Regions from separate parts of the Homo sapiens genome. Here region 1 is linked to region 2. The links come from fine-mapping of genetic effects on gene expression. A gene starts in region 2. The other region holds a variant in brackets. All regions are shown on one strand. Distances are from middle to middle. Region 1 overlaps SEMA4B (semaphorin 4B). Region 2 holds the start of TTLL13 (tubulin tyrosine ligase like 13).

The links. PIP is the estimated chance that this variant, and not a neighbour inherited with it, causes the effect.
Region 1: its variant is fine-mapped to the expression of TTLL13 in whole blood (TOPMed, PIP above 0.99).

The regions. Positions count from the first base shown.
Region 1 is chr15:90,204,814-90,216,519 of GRCh38, reverse strand. The region is part of intron 1 of SEMA4B (semaphorin 4B); the gene reads right to left. It also overlaps the pseudogene RPS12P26. Among named protein-coding and RNA genes, the nearest start is that of SEMA4B, 9.3 kb to the right of the region's middle. RefSeq lists silencers at 1,589-1,883, 3,828-4,002 and enhancers at 4,066-5,265, 6,801-6,850. The variant G/A (reference allele first, on the strand shown) is at 7,136.
Region 2 is chr15:90,243,899-90,255,604 of GRCh38, reverse strand. It overlaps TTLL13 (tubulin tyrosine ligase like 13), which reads right to left and starts at 6,049. Exons shown (of 15, transcript NM_001396017.1): 1 at 5,797-6,049; 2 at 4,718-4,985; 3 at 4,011-4,051; 4 at 2,238-2,356. The coding sequence starts at 4,974. GDPGP1 (GDP-D-glucose phosphorylase 1) reads right to left here. Exons shown (of 4, transcript NM_001013657.3): 4 at 9,794-11,706. It also overlaps a transcript of CIB1 not described here.

The DNA of each region.
Region 1 (11,706 bases), 39 kb after region 2:
TGACAGACAGACATCATAATATGGTAGCAGGGTTGTCACAAGCTGCTGCCAATGGCTAATGGAATAATAAATACAGGTCAAGTGTACTGTTTTATATTGCAAAGGTAACCAATAAAGGAAGTGAATACAGTACGGTGACAGAATATGTTGGGGGGAGGAATGGAAGGGAGATGTAAGTGAGGGAAAGTTAGGAATTCAAATAAGCCAAGAAATAGTGGTGTAAGTATTTTACTTAAAAATATGGAGGAAATGGGCTGGGCGTGGTGGCTCACACCTATAATCCCAGCACTTTGGTGTGGATCACCTGAGTTCGAGACCAGCCTGACCAACATGGAGAGATCCCGTCTCTACTAAAAATATAAAATTAGCCAGGCGTAGTAGCACATGCCTGTAATCCCAGCTACTCGGGAGGCTGAGGCAGGAGAATCGCTTGAACCTGGGATGCAGAGGTTGCGGTGAGCTGAGATCACACCATTGCACTCCAGCCTGGGCAACAAGAGTGAAACTCCATCTCAAAAAGAAAAAAAAAAAATGGAGGAAATAATGGTAGAACAAGAACCCTAAGAACCCTAAATGATTAAAAGTCCCTTTTAAATTGGCCTGGGGTGAGGGAGGACAGACGTTTTTGCTTTTTATAATAAGCCCTTCTATACTTAAAAATATATATATACGTGCATGTATCCTTGATACAAATTTTATTTATTTTTTGAGACTGAGTCTCACTCTGTTGCCCAGGCAGGAGTGCACTGGCATGATCTCGGCTCACCGCAACCTCCGCCTTCCAGGTTCGAGCAATTCTTCTGCCTCAGCCTCCCGAGTAGCTGGGATTACAGGCATGTGCCACCATGCCCGGCTAACTTTTGTATTTTTAGTAGAGACAGGGTTTTGCCATGTTGGCCAGGCTGGTCTCGAACTCCTGGCTTCAAGCAATCCGCCTGCCTCAGCCTCCCGAAGTGCTGGGATTACAGGTGTGGGCCACTGCGCCCAGACCTTGGTACACATTTTAAGTAGCTTTTGTTTTTGCAGAATAACAACAAGGAAAGACACGAATTATCTACCATGAAGTGAAAATTCAGGTTATATTTAGTATGTATGGTCAAATTCTATTTTTTGTGGGAAAAATATAAGCATAGGAAAAAAATCCAGAAGGATGTATCACAAAACACTAAAACATGGGCTCCCTGGTAGAATTACAGGTAGCTTTCTTTTCTTTTTTACTTGTTATCATTTTTAGATTCTCTAATAAGCAGGTTATCCTTATATAATGTGAAATATATAAATCAAAGAAAAAAAAAAAGAAACACACACACACTTACCCACCAGGGTACTGTTTATGCTTTGGGTAACTAAAGGGTTTGGAGAGAAATTATTTTTAAAATTCTAAGCAGCTGATGAGAACACAAAAACAAGCAAAGAGCAGCACCCTGACCACCCTCAGGCACGTTGTAGCGGACCAGTGGGTTATGACCACACAAACAGTCTCACGAAGCTGAGGAAGCAAAAAGTGCAACACGCCCAATCAAGCAGCTGTGAAGATGACTTCATGTGTGTTTACCTGTGGAGTGTTTTTACATACCCCCAGCCTGGTTCCATAAAGGGTGGGGAGACATGAAGAAAAGAAAGTAGTGAAATATAAACATTAAAATCAGGAGCAGAGAAAACCCAAATCTGAAGAAAAACATCTCCATCAGCAAGGAAGTAAAAATTCACGAGTAGGTCAATGAGTCTTCGCACAGCTGGTAGAGAAGGGCTGAGCCTTTAGTGCTGGGCCTCCTGGTGGCCAAAGAAAAATGGGAAATGAAGCTACTCCATCCTCAATGTCCATAAGGAGGAACACATATCAGCCATTTGGGGGAAGCTCAGCCTTTTTTTTTTTTTTTTTTTTTGAGATGGTGTTTTGCTGTTGTTGCCCAGGCTGGAGTGCAATAGCACAATCTTGGCTCACCGCAACCTCCGCCTCCCAGGTTCAAGCGATTCTCCTGCCTCAGCCTCCTGAGTAGCTGGGATTACAGGCATATGTCACCACGCCCGGCAAAGTATTTTTAGTAGAGACGGGGTTTCTCCATGTTGGTCAGGCTGGTCTTGAACTCCTGACCTCATGTGATCCACCCGCCTCGGCCTCCCAAAGTGCTGGGATTACAGGCGTGAGCCACCACGCCCAGCAGCTCAGCCCTTTTTTTTTTTTTTTTTTGAGACGGAGTTTCTCTCTTGTTGTCCAGGCTGGAGTGCAATGGTGCAACCTACACCTCTCAGGTTCAAGCGATTCTCCTGCCTCAGCCTCCCAAGAAGCTGGGATTACAGGTGCCTGCCACCATGCCCAGCTAATTTTTGTATTTTCAGTAAAGTCAGGGTTTCATCATGTTGGCCAGGCTGGTCTCTCGTACTCCTGACTTCAGGTGATCCGCCTGCCTCAGCCTCCCAAAGTGCTGGGATTATAGGCCTGAGCCACCGCGCCCAGCCGAAGCTCAGCTTTACACCTGGCAGCAAATGGGGAAGGAAGCCCTCGGGTGGGGGTGACACTAGTTAACAGGATGACGGGGGTCAGGTGGCTGAGCCACCGAGCCCGGCCCTCAAGTAGGCCCTTCTGTCAGGCAGCAGAGACATCGTCTCAATGAGCTGCAGTTTCTCATACATGTCACGGGAGGAATGAGACATATAAAGATCACAGGAGTCTCAAGAGGAGTGAGACCAAGACAGACACTGCGGTCCCTTCTTATCTTTTGGATTTTTCCATAGTTCTCTGGAAGCAAGGGCTGGTTCAGATAAGCTGGTTGCCCGTGCTTATCTACCTGCAAAAGAGCGTTTCCACCTGGGCAGGCCCTGTAAGTCTGGGCAGCAGACCGCCCTTGGAATCTGTCCAGACAAAGAAATGCCAAGAGTCAGAGATAAGCCTCAGTCCCAGGTGGCAACTCAATCCCACTTACGCCTGGGAGAAGGGGTGGAAACCTGCCTCGGGCACTACAGAGTGCAGCCGGCTGGAGGGGAAACCTATAGACCAGCCAGTCCCTGGTTCAGCCCAGGCCTCCAAACGAGCCAGCCACAAGCCCTCCAGCCATGCTGGGAGTAGAGTGAATGAAACGACAAAGGGACAGAAAGGGGAATGTGCCTTGGAGAGGGGGGTGAAGGGCCCCTTAACCAGGCTTTCCCCTTCTGGGGCTTCCCTTCCACACTTGCCTCATCTCTCTGCCCTGAGAGTCAGACTGAAAGCCATGGTGTGCAGAGTAGAGTTAGAGACCTGGGTTCAAAGCCATCCTCTACCACTTACTGGCTGTGTGCCACCAGGACACGCCACTTAACCTCTCAAAGCCCCGTTTTCCTTATCTGTAAAATGGGGAAAATAATAACACTTTGCCTCATGGGGTTGTTATTAGAAAAAATGAGATTACGTATGTAAATAATAATATACATAATAACCCACATTTACTGAGACAGCTTTGCTAAAACAACGTTGCACATGGTTTGCAGTGTGGCATGGTGTCTGGCACGCGACCAACACTCAATGAGTGACTCAAAAACAAAATCCAAAAGCCCCGCAGGAAAATCCGGCCCGGTGAGAGCTGGCAGAAGGGCAGGGCTCCTTGCGGGAGTCGGGCCTCCCTCATCCAGGGGGTTCACGAACTTAGCCTGGGCGATTCTAACTTAGGCACGCACCTGGTCACACGAGGGTCTCATGGCCAAAGCCAGACGGCATCAGCTCAGAAACAGAGACTTGCGTGTCACAGGCTCGTGTTGTGGGCGCGAGCTGGTCTGTGCTCGGTGTGAGTGGTGTTACTGTCTAAGGGCCCAGGTGCTTGGGTCACCTCCAGAGTGACTGCAGACGTCTGTGAAGGACCCTGCCTGAGCTTGCCTGTGGTGTGTGTGTGTGTGTGTGTGTGTACACGGTACCGCAGGGCTTGTCCACGCTTGCGCACTCACTCCTAGGTGCTCTTTGTGCAGGGGTGGAGGTGTTTCTGCACTTTACTTCCTGCGAGGGGCTGGCGCACCTTGGGGTCAGTCTTAAGCTTTTATGCTCTCCCTTGTGTCAAAGAGTGTCTCGCTCGCTCTCCTGGGCTGCCTGTGCTGCTCGGACATCCTCTAAATCCATCTATCCAGTGGGTTAGTCCAGTATGAAGAAAGCAGGGCACGCCGAGGCTGCGGCCGGTTTTCCCATTCAGGGTGAACCCTCTCCCTCCACCCCGACAGGCTTCAGCCAGGGGCTTCACCAAGGCCAGTGCATCCCACTAGGCAGATCATCCTTCAAAAAGGCAGACCGGGGCTGGTCTGGGGCTGCCCTGTCCCTCCCTGGAGGGAGACGGCACATGGAATGGGCACATAAGAGTCACCTGCAGGGTCCCCACTCCCCACCCCAGGAAGTGGGGTTCTGAGTAGGAAGTGGGGTTCTGAGTAGGAAGTGATGTGGGAATACTCAGCCCTCAGCCCCATGTAAGGGTCCTCCTTCCCTGTGACTCAGCCGGAAGCCTGGAGCTCTCTGGGGTGAGACAGGAATAGGGCTCAGCACCATCCCCACCCTGGTTAGTCCCCACCCCAGGCCAGCCAGCTAGCTGCAGCAGCGCTGTGACTCAGAACCCCACCCCACCTTTCTCTCTACTGTGGCTCCGGGCACGGCAGCAAGACGCTGACCTGGCCCTAACATCCCACCCTCTACAGGCCCCAGCAGGATCAGGCCAGAAAACACCAGCTTCCCTGTGGAGTCGGTGGGGAAGGGGCCTCCAATGCAAGGAGGCAGCCAGTGGCCTCCCCCACTCTCAGAGAGGGGTCTGGGCGGGACAAGTCCCCAGAGAGCCTCCTGAAAGGCTGTTGTAGCCCTTCGTCCCCAGGGATGTCACGATAAGTCACCAGAACCTTGGACCCACTTACCCCAGCAGCAGCCCCACCTCCAGGGCAGGAGTGCTGACGGGGCCACAGTCAGCAGGAAACTGGGACACACTGCCAACCTGGGTGCACTTCCTTCCTCCACACGGCCCGTGTTGGGCAGGGCAGCCACTTCTTCCTCATGGAGCATGGAGGAGGGGGCCACATTCTGCTGACACCAGCCCAGTGCCAGAGTCGAGTCCCTGACCAGGGACTCTGGGCAGAGGTTGGGGGTATTGTGTGCCAAGGGTCCTCCCATGGACTGAGGTCACCAAGAAAGTGGCAACGAGGGCAAGGGAACCTGGCCTCACAGCATCTGTGCTCCTGGGGCATGCCCCGGAAAGCCATTGCTACAGCCCCAAGTGGGCAGACGAAGAGCCTCTGCCAGAACCCCCAGGCAGTCCCAGTCCCGACCTAGGGCCTGTGCCATGGGTGCACAGACCACTGCCGTCACCTTAGGAGCCTGCCTGCCGCCTGCCTGCTCACAGGTCTACACAGGGACACGCTCAGTCCCTCTGCTCAGGGGCTGGCTCCCCTCTAACAACCCGGCTTCTAGGGCCTCTGCCCTGGGTCTGCCTTCCTGCTTTTATAGATGTCTCCACTTCTTCCAAGGAAATCGGGGTCATCAGGCATAAACAACCTCAACTTCCCACCCCATCTCCTCAGAGACCAAATCCTATGTCACCAACTCTACCTGTCAGAAAGCAGTTTTTGTTCCAATGTCCATTCTAGAAACTTTTGTGCCTCCCTCCACCTGCCTTAGACAAGCTCCCAAAGAGAACAGCCACCCCATGCCATCTCTGCCTCTCACCTTCCACTCACTCCTCCACAGAAGTTGGGCCTCAGCCAGCCCCACGTTCAGCAGTGCCAGCCCTGCCAAGAGCCCAGGGATCGCCTCGCTGACAGACCCCAGACACGGGCCACGCCACCCCGTCCTCTAGGTACCTGTGCCCCCAGTCTCAAGCATCACTCCGTGTCTCCCTCACATGCCTTCTGGGCCTCTAGCCCTCAAAGAGCTAAAGTATGTGAGCACTTTCTCAGCCCTTTAAACGGATTAAGTCATGTCATCCTCACAAGGCTGCTGTGTTTTATTACCTCTGTTTCAGGTGCAAGTCATCCCCGGGAGGAGTGGTGGGGATGCCGCCCGACCCTGGGCCACCTGGCTGCAGCATCTGTGTTGATGACCACCCTCCTGCCTCAGGCTTTGCTCCTGAATGTTCTTGCTCTCTAGGTCTGTCTGCTCCTGGCCCTGCTCTTCTTAACTCCGTTCAAGCCCCTGGGTCACACGTCCATGCTCATCACTTCAATGACGCGGATGCTGGCGATCCCCAAATCTCCTCATCCAAGTGCAGATCTTCCTCCAACACACCAGACCCCACAGTGCAGAAGGGCCTCTGTGGGTGCCTCCCACCACCTCACCGCCCCCTTCCAGTCCCACTCCCTGGCTTGGCATTTTGTGTTTGTGTGTGGCACCACTCACCTGGGTGTCTCACCATCCTCCTTCCTCAGAAGTCCAGTCTATAATCAAATCCTGCCAATTTTCTCTCAATATTTTCCAAATCCATTCCCCTCACCATCCCCACTACCGCAGTCCTGAGCCTGGCACCATCCTCTCTCACCTAGGCCACCATCACAGCAGCCTCCCAACCAGCCTCCCATCTCCAGGCCAGCTGCTATGCTGCAGCCAGAGGGCTCTCTGGGAGCCGTCACTGTTCTGCCTAAAAACTTCAATAGCACCCCGTCGTCCAAGCTCCTAACTTGCTAGTGCTTGCCACCCACCCACCTCTTGGTTCGACCAAGTGACATGGAACTGCAACTCAAGGGCCCAATTCTCTCATCTCCGGTCTGTTCAGGAAGTCCCCTCCACCCAGAAGGCTTTCCTTTTGACTAACTCACACTCATCCTTTGAGACTTGGCTCAGTTCCACCTCCTCCAGGAGGCCTTCCTGGATCCCCGGCTGGGCAAGGGCCCTTCTCCGTATGCCCATCATTTCCTGTTCACACGTCTTGTAGTGCACTGGTGACACTGTCGGATGATGGCAATGTTTGATGTTTGATGATGATGAGGAGGGTCTTTCTGCGCTCTTCTCTCTTTTTTTTTTAAGACAGTCTTGCTCTGTCGCCCAGGCTAGAGTGCAATGGCATGATCTTGGCTCACTGCAACCTTGAACCTTGGGTTCAAGCGATTCTTCCGCCTCAGCCTCAGCCTCCTGAGTAGCCGGAATTACAGGCACCCGCCATCATGCCCGGCTAATTTTTGTATATATATATATATTTTTTTAGTA[G/A]AGATGGGGTTTCACCATGTTGGCCAGGCTGGTCTTGAACTCCTGACCTCAGCTGATCCGCCTGCCTCGGCCTCCCAAAGTGTTGGGATTACAGGTGTGAGCCACCGCGCCCGGTCTTTGTGCTCTTCTTTTCCACCAAGCTGACAGCATCTTCAAGATCAAGACCATGTCTTATTCATATTTGTATCAACTGGTCAGGTGAGCTCCCAGCAGTTGTTCCATAAATGTTTGTTGACTAAACAAATGAATGACACAGTCCCAGTGAGAGTGCTCCAGCCCAGAGAGGGGCCCCAGATAAAAATGGGGCAACGTGGAGGTCCTGAAGCATCACACTCACAAAAGTGTGTCTGAGAAGCACTGCTACCACTCTGACCCCTCCCAAAAGCACTGAACACATAGAAGTATAACAGCTGACAGGAGCTCGAGACCAGCCTGGGCAACATGATGAAACCCTGTCTCTACCAAGAATGCAAAAATTAGCTGGGCATGGTGGCATATGCCTGAGGTCCCAGCTACTCAGGAGGCTGAGGTGGGAAGATCGCTTAAGCCTGGGAGGTGGAGGTTGCAGTGAGCCAAGATCTCACCACTGCAGCCTGGGTGACAGAGTGAGACCCCATCTCAAAAAAAAAAAAGAAAAAGAAAAAAAGAATTAAGTATGACAGGTGGAAGTATGACAGCTGAAAGTATGGTAGGGAGACAAGAAACAAGCTTCACGGACTGGAAGGGGCACAAGACATGTGTGTGAATCCTCACTTGATCACTGACCCACTGTGCAACCCCGAACAAATTCTCAGTCCTGAGAGGGCTGCCTTGCAGGATTGCTGAGAAGACTAAATAAACACAGTACGTGGCAGTGCAAAGCTCTGCAAAGATTAGGGGTCAGTGACCATCAATAATCAAGATGGGTTCTCCCCATGCTCCCTACTCCTCCCCTTGCTTCTTGCCTTCTACTTTTACTCTAGCCCTTTTTCACACGCAAGACTTAGGCCCCAGACACGTGCTGCTACACGGAATGGGGGTCCAACCTTACCAGACCTTCAGAAAAGCTGGAAACCTAGATTTTTATGTAAAATTTCCTAAGTTTTAAATATCAGCAACTAATTAAAATTTTTCTTTCTTTTTTTTTTTTTGAGATGGAGTTTTGCTCTTGTCTTCCAGGCTGGAGTGCAATGGCATGATCTCGGCTCACTGCAACCCCTGTCTCCCAGGTTCAAGTGATTCTCCTCCCTTAGCCTCCTGAGTAGCTGGGATTACAGGTGCCTGCCACCATGCCCAGTTAATTTTTCTATTTTTAGTAGAGATGGGGTTTCACCACGTTGGCCAGGCTGGTCTCGAAACTCCTGACCTCAAGTGGTCCACCCGCCTCGGCCTCCCAAAGTGCTGGGATTATAGGCGTGAGCCACCGCACCTGGCCTAATTAAAATTTTTCTAAAGAACTTGGAAGTCAAACAAAATGTATCTCCAGGCTGGCTGTGGCCCACTACCCTTCAGTTTGCAAACTTCTGTCTGAGATGTGTGCCTCAGTCTCCTGTGTGCCACATGTCTGCCAGCTCTGCCCTCTTCCCAACTATGGCCATGCAACCAGGGGCCTCGGCTGGATCCCCTGCCCCGTCCAGAGACTGACCTCAACAGATTTCTTTAACAGATGGAAAAATATAACCTGCAATTATTCAAGGGCTGAGCCGGGTCATCTTGCTGCTTTTGTACGATTCACAGGTGAAGCAGGAGGCAGCTGTTCTAATGGAAAGAATGTGGTTGCTGAATCGAGAACTGTGGCCCAAGGCTTGGTCCCAAACTCTTCTATAGCTGCATGACCTTGATAATGAGTTAGCTTCACTGAGCTTTGGTTTCCTCATCTGCATGAGATAAAGCAATGCACTTCCACATCCAACAGCAGTGCCTGGCACACAGGGAGTGCACCGCAATGGCCGCTTTTATTTGCTCTTCCAGTTGGCCCCCTTCCTAGAGGATGGGCCAAAAGATGCCAAAAAAGAGGACACGAGTTGGCTAATTTGGCTCCTCTTTAGGAGTATGGTAAAATGATGGCTTCTGTCTCCTACCTACCATCCCCACTGAAACCCCCTCGCCACAGGCCCCCCACCTCTCGGAAGCCTGTTAAGACTACAGGATGGGCTTCCAGATGGATCCAGGAGTGCAGAATAGAGCTTCCATGCACAACAAGTCAGATCACAGGCCTGGGAGGCAGAACTCTAGCAGCTGGACAGAACACTCCACCTCTGTGTATCACTCTGTAGCCACTCTACTCTTCTGTGACCATCTCTGCCACAGGGCAGGAGCCACCCCTTAGTGTTCCAGTATTCAGTGCCCAGAAGAGGGTCGATGGTGAGCTAATAAGTATAGAGCCGCTGTGGGCACCAGGCTTTTTTTGTTTTTTTTGTGAGCCAAAGATATTTTCTTCATTTCTTGCATTAGAAGTTCTCTCTGATGACATGCTTGGCCTGAGACTCCTTGCCATAGTCCTTAACTACTATACAACTGCAACCAACCACTTTACGGGGTTTCCCCTCTCTGTCAATTTGACAGAGACCTACCCATTCCCCCAGTTTCTTTTGTCATCAACCTTAATTAGGTTGATTTGGTGCTCAGCACAAAGGGCTTCCACCAACTTGACATACACAGTCTCATCACCGTTGGATGCAAGCACACAAAGATGGGCTTGGCGCTTGTCTAAGGCTTTGGTAGCTTTGCGAATTCCATGTGCTAGGCCATCGTGGATGAGGGCTGTCTTCAACAGCTCTTGTAAAGCAGCATTAATGTCCATTACCCCTCCAGCAGCAATGCCTTCCTCGGCCATGGCAGTGGGTTACGGGTGAAGCCGAATCTTGAACGCAACTGAGCCTGAGCCTCCGTCTCTGCATGACTTGGTGGCAGCAGGGAAAGAGCCACCAGGCTTTTAATTATCTTATCTTACAGACAGGATAGCTGTCCCACATCCAGCACAGGGAGGTCAGAATGTGAAGAGGAGGGGCAGGGAAACCAGCTGGGGAAAAGCATGGAGAATGCAGTCCAAGGGAGCAGACTTCCCAAAAAGCTAATCTGAGGGAAGGCAGGCCTCGACCACAGGAGTCTCGCGTTGTGTTGTTCCTGTTGCCCCGATCCCCAGGGAGGGCCACATCAGAGGCCCCCTGAGTCCTGCGCCAGCCTGAGCACCCATGGGGGTGGAGTGAGAGGCAACAGGCTCTAAGAAGATAAAGGAAGGAGTGATTGATGACATGACCCGAGTCTAGCCTTTTCTCCAGGCCCCGTGCCACCCTCTGTCTCTTGCCTAGAGGATGAACATGCTGGTATATCCAGATATGCCCCAAAAGTTGTGCAAGTTTAGCGCTCTCCTGGGTTGGCACAGAGGTATTTCAACACCAGCTGGATGTGGGTTGTGCTGAAGGCAGAGCAGAACCAGTGAAGGGCAGGCAGGGAGAGGCATGGTCCAGCCCCATGCAGAGGAGGTTCTTCAGGCAAAGGAGGACTTTGAAAAGGCTGAATCAGGAGCACTTAATAACTGGGCTATAATTAAGCAGGACCCCTGGTAATGACCTCCAATCAGCTCCTGGGGGCCTTGCTTTGTCTTTTCTACCAGGGCAGGCACTAAGCCTGACAAGGCTTGGCACCTAGCAGAGGGCCTGCATACCACCAGTGTGCACAAAAATGGATGCAAATAACCTCACCAAGCAAGGCTGGCAGGGGGTTTCTAGCACACCAGAGCAGAAGCTACCTTTTTACTACGGATGCAGCATGTGCCAGGCACCATGCCAAACACTTTACATACATTATTTCATGTAATCCTCTCAGAACACTGTGAAGATGGCCATTATTCCTCTCTTGCTAATGTGAAAATGGGCCTGGAGAAGGCCAGGAGCTTGCCCAAGGTTGTGCAGTTAGTAAGGGTGGCAAGCTACTTTACAAAGCCAGGCTCTGAGCATCCGCAGTTAGAGCGCCTTCCACTCACCTCTGCAGAGCCAAAGAGATGCTGGCCCATAGGACAGAGCTGGGGACAAAGGCTCATGTCCAGTTGAGACCATGTCAAGGAGGGAAGCCAGTAACCGGGCTGAGGGCTCAACAAGCGACCAGCATCAGGGCTTCCCAGGGCAGCCTTGACCCTGGCTGCCTCCTCCAGGGCCAGAGGGCAAGCAGCTGATTTGTGCCAAATGCTCCATTCTCTCTGCTCAATGGCGTTTTGTTGACTGCAGTTTGCAGGCCTGCAGATTTCTGTCCAATCTGCTTCAGAAATACTGCGTCCAGAGCTTTCCCGCCCGGCACTTCTGGGGCAGGAGGGAATTAATAACTCCCTTTAAGGCCGGATGTGGTGGCTCATGCCTGTAATCCCAGCACTTTGGGAGGCCAAGATGGGCAGATCACCTAAGGTCAGAAGTTCGAGACCAGCCTGGACAACATGGTGAAATCCCATCTCTACAAAAATACAAAAATTAGCTAAGCATGGTGGCGGGCACCTGTAGTCTCAGCTGCTCGAGAGGCTGAGGCAGGAGAATCACTTGAACTTGGGAGGTGGAGGCTGCAGTGAGCGGAGATGGCATCACTGTACTCCAGCCTGGGAG
Region 2 (11,706 bases):
TAGGAAGGTTCCTTAAGGCAGGTGAGAAAACCCTCTGTGACTCCTACCCAACACACACATCCACACTGAGCTCAGCAAATGAGGGGCAGTGAGAAGGAATGTAACTAGCCAAGACTGTGGCTTCCACAGTCCACCTTCTAACACCCCTCAGACCACCAGGCCTAGTCCTCTAACAATAACTAATGCATGATAGCACAAAGCAGACAATGAGACGAAAGCATTCCCCAAAAGACACAAAAGATAAAAGGAAACTAAGAACCAGCCCCAAGGAATGTGATGCCATGGCACCCACTGAGGGCATGGCATCACCCTGGTGCCTGCCAGAAACCCCTGGCTGCTCTGTCCTGCTGGATGGGTGGCAGCATCCGGGATGCCACCAAGTAAAGAACAAATAATGAGATAGGATGTACCCACCAGACACTTCCTTCAGGTAATTCCAGAGACCCAGGAGGAGAATCTTTCCGTTGGAAAAGAATACCCTGGGGATGGTCTTTCCTGTCTGCACAGGGGGACAGCCACAAAGAGTATGCTAAGTGCTCTCCACTGGGTTTCCCCATCACTGGCCGCACTCACTGTATGAACTTAGTATTTCTGACCCTCCATGTCCTAACCAAGGGATATCTGCTGCTCAGGGCTGTTCTTGAGGATTTAATGGGGTAATACTATAAAAGCACTTAACACGGAGTCTGTTGTACAGTAAGCCCTCAGTAAATGCTGCTGATTATTGTTATCCTTATCCTTTTTTTTTCCCCCTTCCCTGAGACAGGGTCTCCCTCTGTCGCCCAGGCTGGAGTGCAGTGGTGTGATCTCAGCTCACTGCGGCCTCTGCCTCCCAGGCTCAAGAGATCCTCCTGCCTCAGCCTCCCAAGTGGCTGGGACTAAAGCATGCACCACTACGCCTGGCTAATATTTTTTTATTTTTGTATTTTTGGTAGAGATGGGGTTTTGCCTGTTGCCCAGGCTGGTCTCAAAGTCCTGAGTTCAAGCAATCTGCCCACCTTGGCTTCCCAAAGGGATTTCAGGCACGAGAGCCACCGTCCACCGTGCCCAGCCTGCATTCCTCATTTTACAAATGCCCCTCCTTTGGAGCGTCCTTTTTTTTTTTTTTTTTTTAGATGGAGTCTCACTCTGTCACCCAGGCTGGAGTGCAATGACACAATCTTGGCTCACTGCAACCTCCGCCTCCTGGGTTCAAGTGATTCTCCTGCCTCAGCCTCCTAAATAGCTGGGATTACAAGTGTGCGCCACCATGCCTGGTTAATTTTTGTATTTTTAGTAGAGATGGGGTTTTACCCTGTTGGTCAGGCTGGTCTTGAACTCCTGACCTCATGATCCGCCCGCCTCGGCCTCCCAAAGAGTTGGGATTACAGGCGTGAGCCACTGTGCCCAGCCTTTTTTTTTTAAAAAAAAAAAAAACAGGGTCTCACTCTGTCACACAGGCTGGAGTGTAGTGGCATGATCTCTGCTCACTGCAACCTCCACCTCCTGGGTTCAAGTGAACTCCTGACCTGAATTGATCCACCTGCCTTGGCCTCCCAAAGTGGTGGGATTACAGGTGTGAGCCACCACACCCAACCTCCTCTGGAGCTTCTTGAGAACTTCTAGCACTTGCTTTCTCTCTTGGGCACCTCTCCCAAGACTAGTTGTGGGACAGGTTTTAATTTCCTCAACTTCCTGCCTGGCTTCCCCAAAGAATAAGCCTGCAGACTCTTTTAAATTATTTTATTGCTGATCACCACAAACGCCCAATTAGAGGATAATAAAAATGTCACAAGGCAGTTCTATTCTTGTGGACCCCGGTGGATCATTCCTGAATTTCTTGCCACCAGGCAGGACCCCGCAGTCTCCTAATGGATGTGGAATGCTAAACTAAGTTGCTTAGAAGGCTGGATCATTCAACTGGCCCTGCTGTTAGCTCTGAAGCTGCCTCCCAGTATTCTCCCTAAGATGTGCTCACCCACCCTGGAGAGGGCCAGCTACACACAGATGCCACCAAGCAAAGTGCAAATCATGAGATAGGATGTGCCCACCAGAAACTTCCTTTGGGTAATTCCAGAAACCCACAATCTCCAAGAGGAGATCTTTCCATTGGAAAAGAAGACCCTGGGGGTGGTCTTTCTTGTCTGCACAAGGGGACAGCCACAAAGAGTAGCAGTCTTGGGTGCCTGGGCAAGGAGGTGGGAATAGTCATTCTGGGGCCCTAGCCCCTGTCGGCTCTCAGGTCAGGAGATGGGTACCTGAAACCTCTTCATGTCCATGACTCGTTCCAGTGAGACAGCGCAGTCTGTCCAGTACAGAGTCCACTCTTCATCCTCCCCCACCTCCTTCAGGCCACACATTTGGGCTGCCCGACGCACTGCAGAGACAGGGAGATCAGTAGTGCCAGCATGGACACCAGCAACAAGCCCTGGAACTGTGTAGCTGGGTCAGGTAAGGTATACACCTGACCCGAGGGCAGGTTGAAGAGGGAGGTAGTTCTTGCCTCAGCCCTGTACTTTAGTTACCACATGACAATTTCAAGTTCTTAGGGGCTGTCAGGGCCCTTCCAAAATACCTAGCAGAGAAAACTAGAACCTGGTTTTTTGTTTGTTTGTTTGTTTGTTTTTTAGAGACGGAGTTTCGCCCTTGTGCTGGAGTGCAGTGGCACGGTCTTGGCTCACTGCAACCTCCGCCTCCCAGGTTCAAGAGATTCTCGTGCCTCAGCGTCCCCAATAGCTGGGACTACAGGCGCCCACCACCACACCTGGGTAATTTTTGTATTTTTAGTAGAGACGGGGTTTTACCATGTTGGCCAGTCTGGTCTCGAACTCCTGACCTCAGGAGATTCGCCTGCCTTGGCCTCCCAAAGTGTTGGGATTACAGGCATGAGCCACCGTGCCCAGCTGCTCCTGTCAGTCTTATCTCTCAATCAGGGATGTTTATGGCTTGGAGAGCTGCCTATAGGTGGGGTCACACTGGCACTTCACACTCCATACTTGTGTGGTTCCTTATAAAGATGCCAGAGGGAATATTAGGGGAAGGACCTAGCTGGAGATTGTTTTTTTTCTTAATCGTTGAAGTCCCTTCAAATCTTCCTTGAAAAAACTGTTTTAAGCTTGTCTCATCTCTGGTAAAATCTGGGAAGGGTCTGGCATGGTGGCTCCTGCCTGTTATCCTAGGCCTTTGAGAAGCTGAAGTGGGAGGATCACTTGAGCCCAGGAGTTCAAGACCAGCCTGGGCAACATAGCAAGACTCTGTCTCTACAAAACATTTAAGAATTAGCTGGGCAGGCTGGGCATGGTGGCTCATGCCTGTAATCCCAGCACTTTGGGAGGCTGAGGTGGGTGGATCACCTGAGGTCAGGAGTTCAAGACCAGCCTGGCCAACATGGAGAAACTCTGTCTACTAAAAGTACAAAATTAGCCAGATGTGGTGGCACATGCCTGTAATCCCAGCTATTTGGGAGGCTGAGGCAGGAGAATCGCTTGAACCTGGGTGGTGGAGGTTGCAGTGAGTCGAGATCACGCCATTGCATTCCAGCCTGGGCAACAAGAGCAAAACTCGGTCTCAAAAAAAAAAAAAGAATTAGGTGAGCATAGTGGTGCAGGCCTGTAGTCCCAGCTACTGGGAAGCTCAGATAGGAAGACGGCTTGAGCTCGGGAGTTCAAGGCTGCATTAAGCTATGATTGCAATACTGCACTCCAGCCTGGATGACAAAGCGAGACTCTGTCTCAAAAATAAATAAATAAAATCTGGGAAGGGTGGGGCAGTAGTGGCTCTTGGACTTTTTTTTTTTTTTTTCTTGTTTACTGTGAGGATACCCTCCCTAACACTGAGACTACCTGGAATGGCAATGTCTCAGCTTCCAGTGTCTGAGGCAGAGGACACCTAGGAAGCTCAGTACAGGTTAGAGGCAAGCCCGCCAGGCCCCAGGGGCTGGAAGCCTGATCGGGGGTCCATTCCAGAGGAAGAACAGCAGCTGTAGGCACCATGTTATGCACCACAGTGTGAGCGACGGGCTGGGTGCTTACCACTCTCATACTTGCAGTTGGTCAGGTTGATGGCCAGTGATCTGGAATGGAGGAATAGCATAAATCAGGAAGAGTGGGAGGGAAGGACAGGTACTCAGATGAAAAGACATCCAACAAATTCACAACACAATTCCTTTTCTCTAGAAGCCACTTAAAAGACAGACCAGGATGGGCTGGGCGCGGTGGCTCATGCCTGTAATCCCAGCACTTTGGGAGGCCGAGGCGGGTGGATCACAAGGTCAGGAGATAGAGACCATCCTGGCTAACACAATGAAACCCTGTCTCTACTAAAAATACAAAAAAAAAAAAAAAAATTTGCCATGCGTGGTGGCAGGTGCCTGTAGTCCCAGCTACTCGGGAGGCTGAGGCAGGAGAATGGCCTGAACCCGGGAGGCGGAGCTTGCCGTGAGCCGAGATCACGCCACTGTACTCCAGCCTGGGCGACAGAGCGAGACTCTGTCTCAAAAAAAAAAAAAAAAAGACAGACCAGGATGACATAAACAGGCTGGGATTCCAAAATGAGCCAGCCTAAATGGTTCTGAATTTTGTTTCTGTTGTATCAAAGGGTTAATGACACTCCAGCATTTCCTGTCCTCTTTTGTAGGCTAAAGGGAAGATCTGAGATCCCAGCTCCTCCAGATGTTGAAGGGAGGCCAATGGGTGACTCCCTGGAGCTGGGCAGTTGAGGGGATCTAGGGAATAGTTACCTGCGTTTCCGCCTTCTCTTCCTCCTCCCAGCTTCTAAGTCGCCTGTGTCAACTGGGGCTATGACTTTCTTCGGAATTTTTGTGGCCATAATGGGTGAGGGAACCCCATTTTTTAATGCCTTATAGTCAGCTTTTAAGAGAGCCTGCTGTGAAGAGTTAGAGGGGTTGGTAACTCCCTCTTTAACACACTTCTCAGATTCCTTTTCCTCAACATAGTCTTCCTCTGATTCCATGGTCCTACAGGTACTCGGCTCCATTCTCTCAGATTCTGAGGGGTTGCGGGGTGGGAATGAAGTGTATATCAGACCTCAGACCTCCCTCAGGCCCTAGAAGGCCTGAAGGAATCCACCAGAACGACCTTCATGCTGTTATAAGGGAAAGTTGCTGCCCCTTCAGGACAAAACTGTTTCACTGAGGAATGGGATGTGTCCAGGTAGGTGGAGGTGCATGGGGGTGGAAGACACCAGTGAGATGTGGATTCCCTGATGACAAGCCCCAATCATCCAGGTTCACACTGGATCATACAACGCACAGGGGTGCCTTCAGGAGTTGGACACAGATGGTATGGGCCATGACCATGGCTCTTTTGTTCCTAATTGGGAAAGAGGATGGCTGTGAGTGCTGGGGGGACCTTCGCTTTAAAATACAGCTGAATCGGCCCAGCACGTTGGGAGGCTGAGGCGGGCAGATCACTTGAGGTCTGGAGTTGGAGAGCAGCCTGGCTAGCACGGTGAAATCCCGTCTCTCCTAAAAATACAAAAATTAGCTGGGTGTGCTGGTGCGTTGCCTGTAATCCCAGCTACTCGGGAGGCTGAGGGAGGAGAATCACTTGAACCTGGGAGGTGGAGGTTGCAGTGAGCCGAGATCACACCACTGCACTCCAGCCTGGGCGACAGAGCAAGAGTCTGTCTCTAAATAAATAAATAAATAAATAAATAAAATAAAATACAGCTGAAGACCAAAAGCCCCCTACGCTGGCCCTTTCCCTCTCCCAGGACTCATTTTCTGCACGTGTACACACTAGGGACAGGCACCCGATGGCTAAGACCCTTTGGGCTGTGACGGTGGAGACTGCCCACCCGTGGTTACGAGGAGAGCTGAGGGGCTGCTGGGTCCGCCCCTAGCCGCCTGGGGATGGACTCAGCTGGCCGCTCATGTCCCCTCTTCCCCCGGCTCCAGGTCTCCCTGGGCGTTTCTGGGCGTCCGGAACCGCCTCCTCGTTTCACAGGACTGGCTGTCCCCACGATCGCGAGGGGGAAGCTGCTCCCCCGCAGGGGTTCACTCCTAGCTCCCGGTGGCCGTGGCTGCGGCTGCCGGGGCAGCGCTTCCTCTAGCAAGCCCGTGGCCGCCGCCGTTGCCATGGACACGAGGGCAGTTCCCATTGGAGAAGCGTCCTGGGGGCGGGGCTTTCCCGCAGCCACACCCACTTGGGCGCGGGCCGAGGCTACCTTGGGTGGGGGAGACAGCGTTTGCCCTTTGGAGCTGGCCGGCCTCGACGCCAGATTCTTCCGGTGTATCATGGGACTTGCAGCCCTCCCGCTTCGAAGCCAGTTCTCGCCGCACTCCCATCTTTCCCTAAACCCCGGGCCAAGGAATTTGGCCAAGCATATAATGAGGACAAATAGCTGTTTGCCTCTCCTCAATTCTCCCTTTTTTTTTTTTTTTTTTTTTTTGAGACGGGGTCTTGCTGTGTCGCCCAGGCTGGAGTGCAGTGGAATGCACCATCATAGCTCACTGCAGCCTGGACCTCCTGGGCTCAAGCAATCCTCCTGCCTCAGCCTCCCCAGTAGCTGTGACTACAGGAGCGTGCCACCACGCCGGGCTCAATTCTTTAGTAACTCTAAGTTTAGCTAGCAAAGCCTATGCATTCAAGAGTGACAGCCATGGTAAGGCCACGTGCCTTTCAAGGCTTTGCCTCTGGTGGACTGAGACAGCTCCATTAAGGAATAACCAAACCGCCTTATCACAGTGCTCCTTCACTGTCACCTTCTCTTCCTGACATCCACCCACTTTGATTTCTGCTCACCACCTCCACCCAACTCAGCTCAACTTGTCACCCTAAAATTATACTGTGTGGCTAAATCTAGAGAACACTTAAAATGTTTCCATCCTTTTAAAAAGACATGGACTTTTTTTTTTTTTTTTTTTTTTTTTTTTTTTTTTTTTTTTGAGACAGGGTCTTGCTTTGTAGCCCAGGCTGGATTGCAGTGGTGTGATCGCAGCTCACTGCAACTTTACTTAGCTTCCCAGGCTCAAGCAATCCTCCCACTTCAGCGTCCCAAGTAGCTGGGGCTACAGGTGCGCACCACCATGCCTGGCTAATTTTTGTATTTTTTGTAGAGATGGGGTTTTGCTGTGTTGGCCAGGCTGATCTTGAACTCCTGACCTCAAGTGACCTGCCCACCTTGGCTTCCCAAAGTGGTGGGATTACAGGCATGAACCACTGAACTCGGCCTAAAAAAGGCATGGACATTCTCTAATTCATAGACTGTTTTTGTTGTTGTTAATTGTCTATAAAGATAAGCTATTTCTTTGCCCACATATTCATGTTTCATAGTTCAGGAACATAGGTTAGTGATAAACTTCTATGTAATGCAACCCAAAGAAACTGTTTATACCAAAATCACTTTGCACTTTGAAAGATACCAGCCTTCCTCATCTCCTCAAAATCTTTCATAGAATCAGCAAGGCTAGGTGGCAGGCCCTGTAGTCCCAGCTACTAGGAAGACTGAGGTGTGAGGATCTCTTGAGCATGGGAGTTAAGAGGATGCCGTGAGCTATGATTATGCCACTGCACTTCAGCTTGGGTGACAGAGTGAGAACTCGTATTTAAAAAAACAAATATCTGGCCGGGTGTGATGGCTCACGCCTGTAATCCCAGCACTTTGGGAGGCCAAGGTGGGCGGATCACCAGGTCACGAGATCAAGACCATCCTGGCTAACACGGTGAAACCCCCTCTCTACTAAAAATAAAAAAATAAAAAAATAAAAATTAGCTGGGCATGGTGGCGGGCGCCTGTAGTCCCAGCTACTTGGAAGGCTGAGGCAGGAGAATGGTGTGAATCCGGAGCTTGCAGTGAACGGAGATCGCGCCACTGCACTCCAGCCTGGGCGACAGAGGGAGTCTCTGTCTCAAAAAAAAAAAGCAAACAAAAAAATCTTTGATGGAATTATAATTTCTCTAGAAATCTGCATATGCCTTCTTTCCCGGTTCAGCCACAGCAAATGTATAGAGTGCTACAACCCTCTATACAGGGATACAGCAATGTGAAACCAGAGGTCATGCATCTGAGGTTTCATCAAAACACTGGAAGCCATGGTAGTTATTGTCCTTGATAGGTATGTCAACCTCAACACCAATGTCCTTCCTGGCTGATGGAGAAATGGGCTGCCCGATTCACAGACTTCTTGATCTTTCCTCAGCATATGATACTCTCATATGAAACTCTCCTCCTGGCTAGGAGTGGCAGCCTACATCGCTAATCCCAGCACCTTGGGAAGCTGAGGCAGGAGGATTACTGGAGGCCAGGAGTTTGAGACCAGGCTGGGCAATACAGCGAGACTCTCTCTCTTAAAAAAAAAAAAAAAAGAAAAAAGAAAAGAAAAGAAAAAAAAGGCCAGTGTGGTGACTCATGGCTGTAATCCCAGCACTTTGGGAGGCTGAGGCAGGTGGATCACGAGGTCAGGAGTTCGAGACCAGCCTGGCCAATATGGTGAAACCCTGTCTCTACTAAAAATACAAAAATTAGCTGGGCATGGTGGCGCACGCCTGTAGTCTCAGCTATTCAGGAGGCCTAGGCAGGAGAATTGCTTGAATCCAGGACGCAGAGGTTGCAGTGAGCCAAGATCGTGCCACTGCACTCCAGCCTGGATGACACAGTGAGACTCCGTCTCAAAAGAAAAAAAAAAAAGGAAAGAAAGAAATGGTCCTCCTGGAAATGTTCTGCAGTCCCTTGACTTCCAGGACACTCATTGCATCAACAAACAATTTAGTGTTCTAGGGACTATTCTAGGACCTCGACCACCATTTCTTGCCTGAATTGCCACAATTCAGCAATTTTTTTTTTTTTTTTTTTTTTTTTTTTTTTTTTTTTTTTTTTGAGACAGAGTCTCACTCTGTTGCCCAGGCTGGAGTGCAATGGCTCAATCTCGGGTCACTGCACCCTCTGCCTCCCGGGTTCAAGTGATTCTCCTGCGTCAGCCTCCTGAGTAGCTGGGATTACAGGCATCTGCCACCACACGGGGCTAATTTTTGTATTTTCAGAGAGATGGGGTTTCACCATGTTGGTCAGGCTGGTCTCAAACTCTTGACCTCAGGTGATCCACCTGCTTGGGTCTCCCAAAGTGCTGCTGGGATTACAGGCGTGAGCCACTACACCTGGCCTCAGCAGTCTGTTAACTGGATTCCCTGATTCTATTCTTCACTCCATCCATCCTCCCCATTACAGCGTAAGTATTCTTCCTCAAATGCAAAGCTGTTACTCAAATGCAAAGCTGTTACCCCACATTAAGTATTCTTCAAGGTTTCCCATTAGATCAAGTCTAAACCCTCTTAGTACATGAGGCCCTGCATGAAGAGTTCTGATTATCGTTTTTTGTTTTGTATTTTTTTTTTGAGATGGAGTCTCGCTCTGTCACCCAGGCTGGAGTGCAATGGCACGATCTTGGCTCACTGCAACCTCTGCCTCCTGGGTTGAAGCGATTCTTCCGCCTCAGCCTCCTGAGTAGCTAGGATTACAGGCGCATGCCACCATGCCCGGTTAATTTTTGTATTTTTGTAGAGACTGGGTTTCACCATGTTGGTTAGGCTGGTCTTGAATTCCTGACCTCCGGTGATCTGCCCGCCTCGGCCTCCCAAAGTGCTGGGATTACAGGAGTGTGCCACCGTGCCCGGCCTCTGCATGAAGAGTTAAGCAAAAACGTGGGGAGGTCCTGGGCTGGGTCAGCACTTCCTACCATACTCAAAGCCCAGGGCTCGGAGTACAAAGGGCCCCTACGTGTTTCCTACTCAGTAGAAAAAGCTGCAGTCCAAATGCTCTTCTTGAAGATTCACAAAGCATATAAATAGCTGAGAAATACCACCAGAAAGAAAACCCATTTTACTTTCCCCTTTTTATATGGAGAAACATATTTGAGTCAGGGAAGGCTTTCCTCTAAACATCAGTCCTACGGAGAAACTGGGAAAATCCTGATATTTGGCTTATCACTTTGAACGCAAAATCCACTTTGCTGTAATGGTCATCCGAACTCCCTTCAGAGAGCAAGCAAGCAAAATTAAGTGTGATACTGGAGCTTATGCATGCAAAAGCTTGCAAAAAGTATTAAGGAAAAATTACTGCAGTTTACCAAAAATATGAGGGTGGTCAACATTTTCTGATAGAATGGTAAACTGTTTTTTTCTTTTTTTTTTTTTTTGAGACAAAGTCTCTCTCTGCCGCCCAGGCTGGAGTGCAGTGGCGCGATCTCGGCTCACTGCCACCTCCGCCTCCCAGGTCCAAGCGATTCTCCTGCCTCAGCCTCCTGAGTAGCTGGGACTATAGATGTGCACCCACACCCAGCTAATTTTTGTGTTTTTAGTAGAGACGGGGTTTCACCATGTTGGCCAGGCTGGTCTTGAACTCCTGACCTTGTGATCTGCCTGCTTCAGCCTCCCAAAGTGCTGGGATTACAGGCGTGAGCCACCGCACCTGGCCTAAACTGTTTTTCTTATAAAATGGGCTATGGACACATATTCTGCTTTATCACAGGGAGACTTTGTAACATCATTTGGGATGTAAAACCTCTAATGAAAACTGGAAACTAAGGCTTTATACAGGCCTAGGTATAGGGAGCCAACGACCTGAAGGCCTAAGCCAGGGCTAGGACCCACAGTTTGGGAGGCAGAGAAATCAAAACCCCTCCTGGGTGAGCCCACTCAGACAGCAGCCAGAACCCACCTGTGTGAGCCCCCTTTCACCCTTACGCTGTGAACAGGGACTCTCATTCCTTCAGGATGTTTGATGAAGGAGTGGTGGCGGTGATAATCTCTGTTGAGAGCTGGACCCAAGACTTTATGTATTTATTTATTTTGAGACTGAGTCTCGCACTATCGCCCAGGCTGGAGTACAGTCGTGCAATCTCAGCTCACTGCAACCTCCGCCTCCTGGGTTCAAGTGATTCTCCTGCCTCAGCCTCCCAAGTAGATGGGATTACAGGTGGCCGCCACAACGCCTAATTTTTGTATTTTTAGTAGAGATGGGGTTTCACCATGTTGGCCAGGCTGGTCTCGAACTCCTGACAAGTGATTTGCCTGCCTCGGCTTCCCAAAGTGCTAGGATTAAAGGTGTGAGCCAACGTGCCCAGCCAACCCAAGACTTCTTTTACTTTTGCTGTATAACATTCAAGGGAGCTAAAAGGAAAATGAGATTTCACACCCACATACTCTCTTAGAATAGTGTCTACTGACTAGTTCCTCTGGAACCAGTGTGAAATGTCTGGAGAAACAGGACAGAACAAAGCAATGAGATAAAAAAAAATTTCCCACATTGACTCAGATGCAGACGGAGGAACAACGACTTAGCTTTGGATTTTGTGTCTACATCAAGAGGAGCTTCTAAAGTGCTTGGGAAAGACCCCAAGAGGGATGGCTGAGGCTCAGGGAGGGCAAACTGTTAAGGACAGTGCTACCCACCATGGGAACCACTGACTGGAGAGGCGGTCACAAGCACACATTGTCCCAGCTCATCTTCTGGTACCTGCCTGTGCTGCAGTCCCGACTCCAGCTGCCTGACCTTGAACAAAGTACAAACTGTCAGTCTCCATCCCGTTTTGAATGGGGGTATTAAGAAGACTCAGGCTGAATTGCTTGAACCCAGGAGGCAGAGACGCAGTGAGCCGAGATCACACCACTGCACTCCAGCCTGGGCAACAGAGTGAAACTCTGATTCAAGAAAAAAAAAAAAAAACTCAGGCCAGGTGCAGTGGCTCATGCCTATAATCTCAGCACTTTG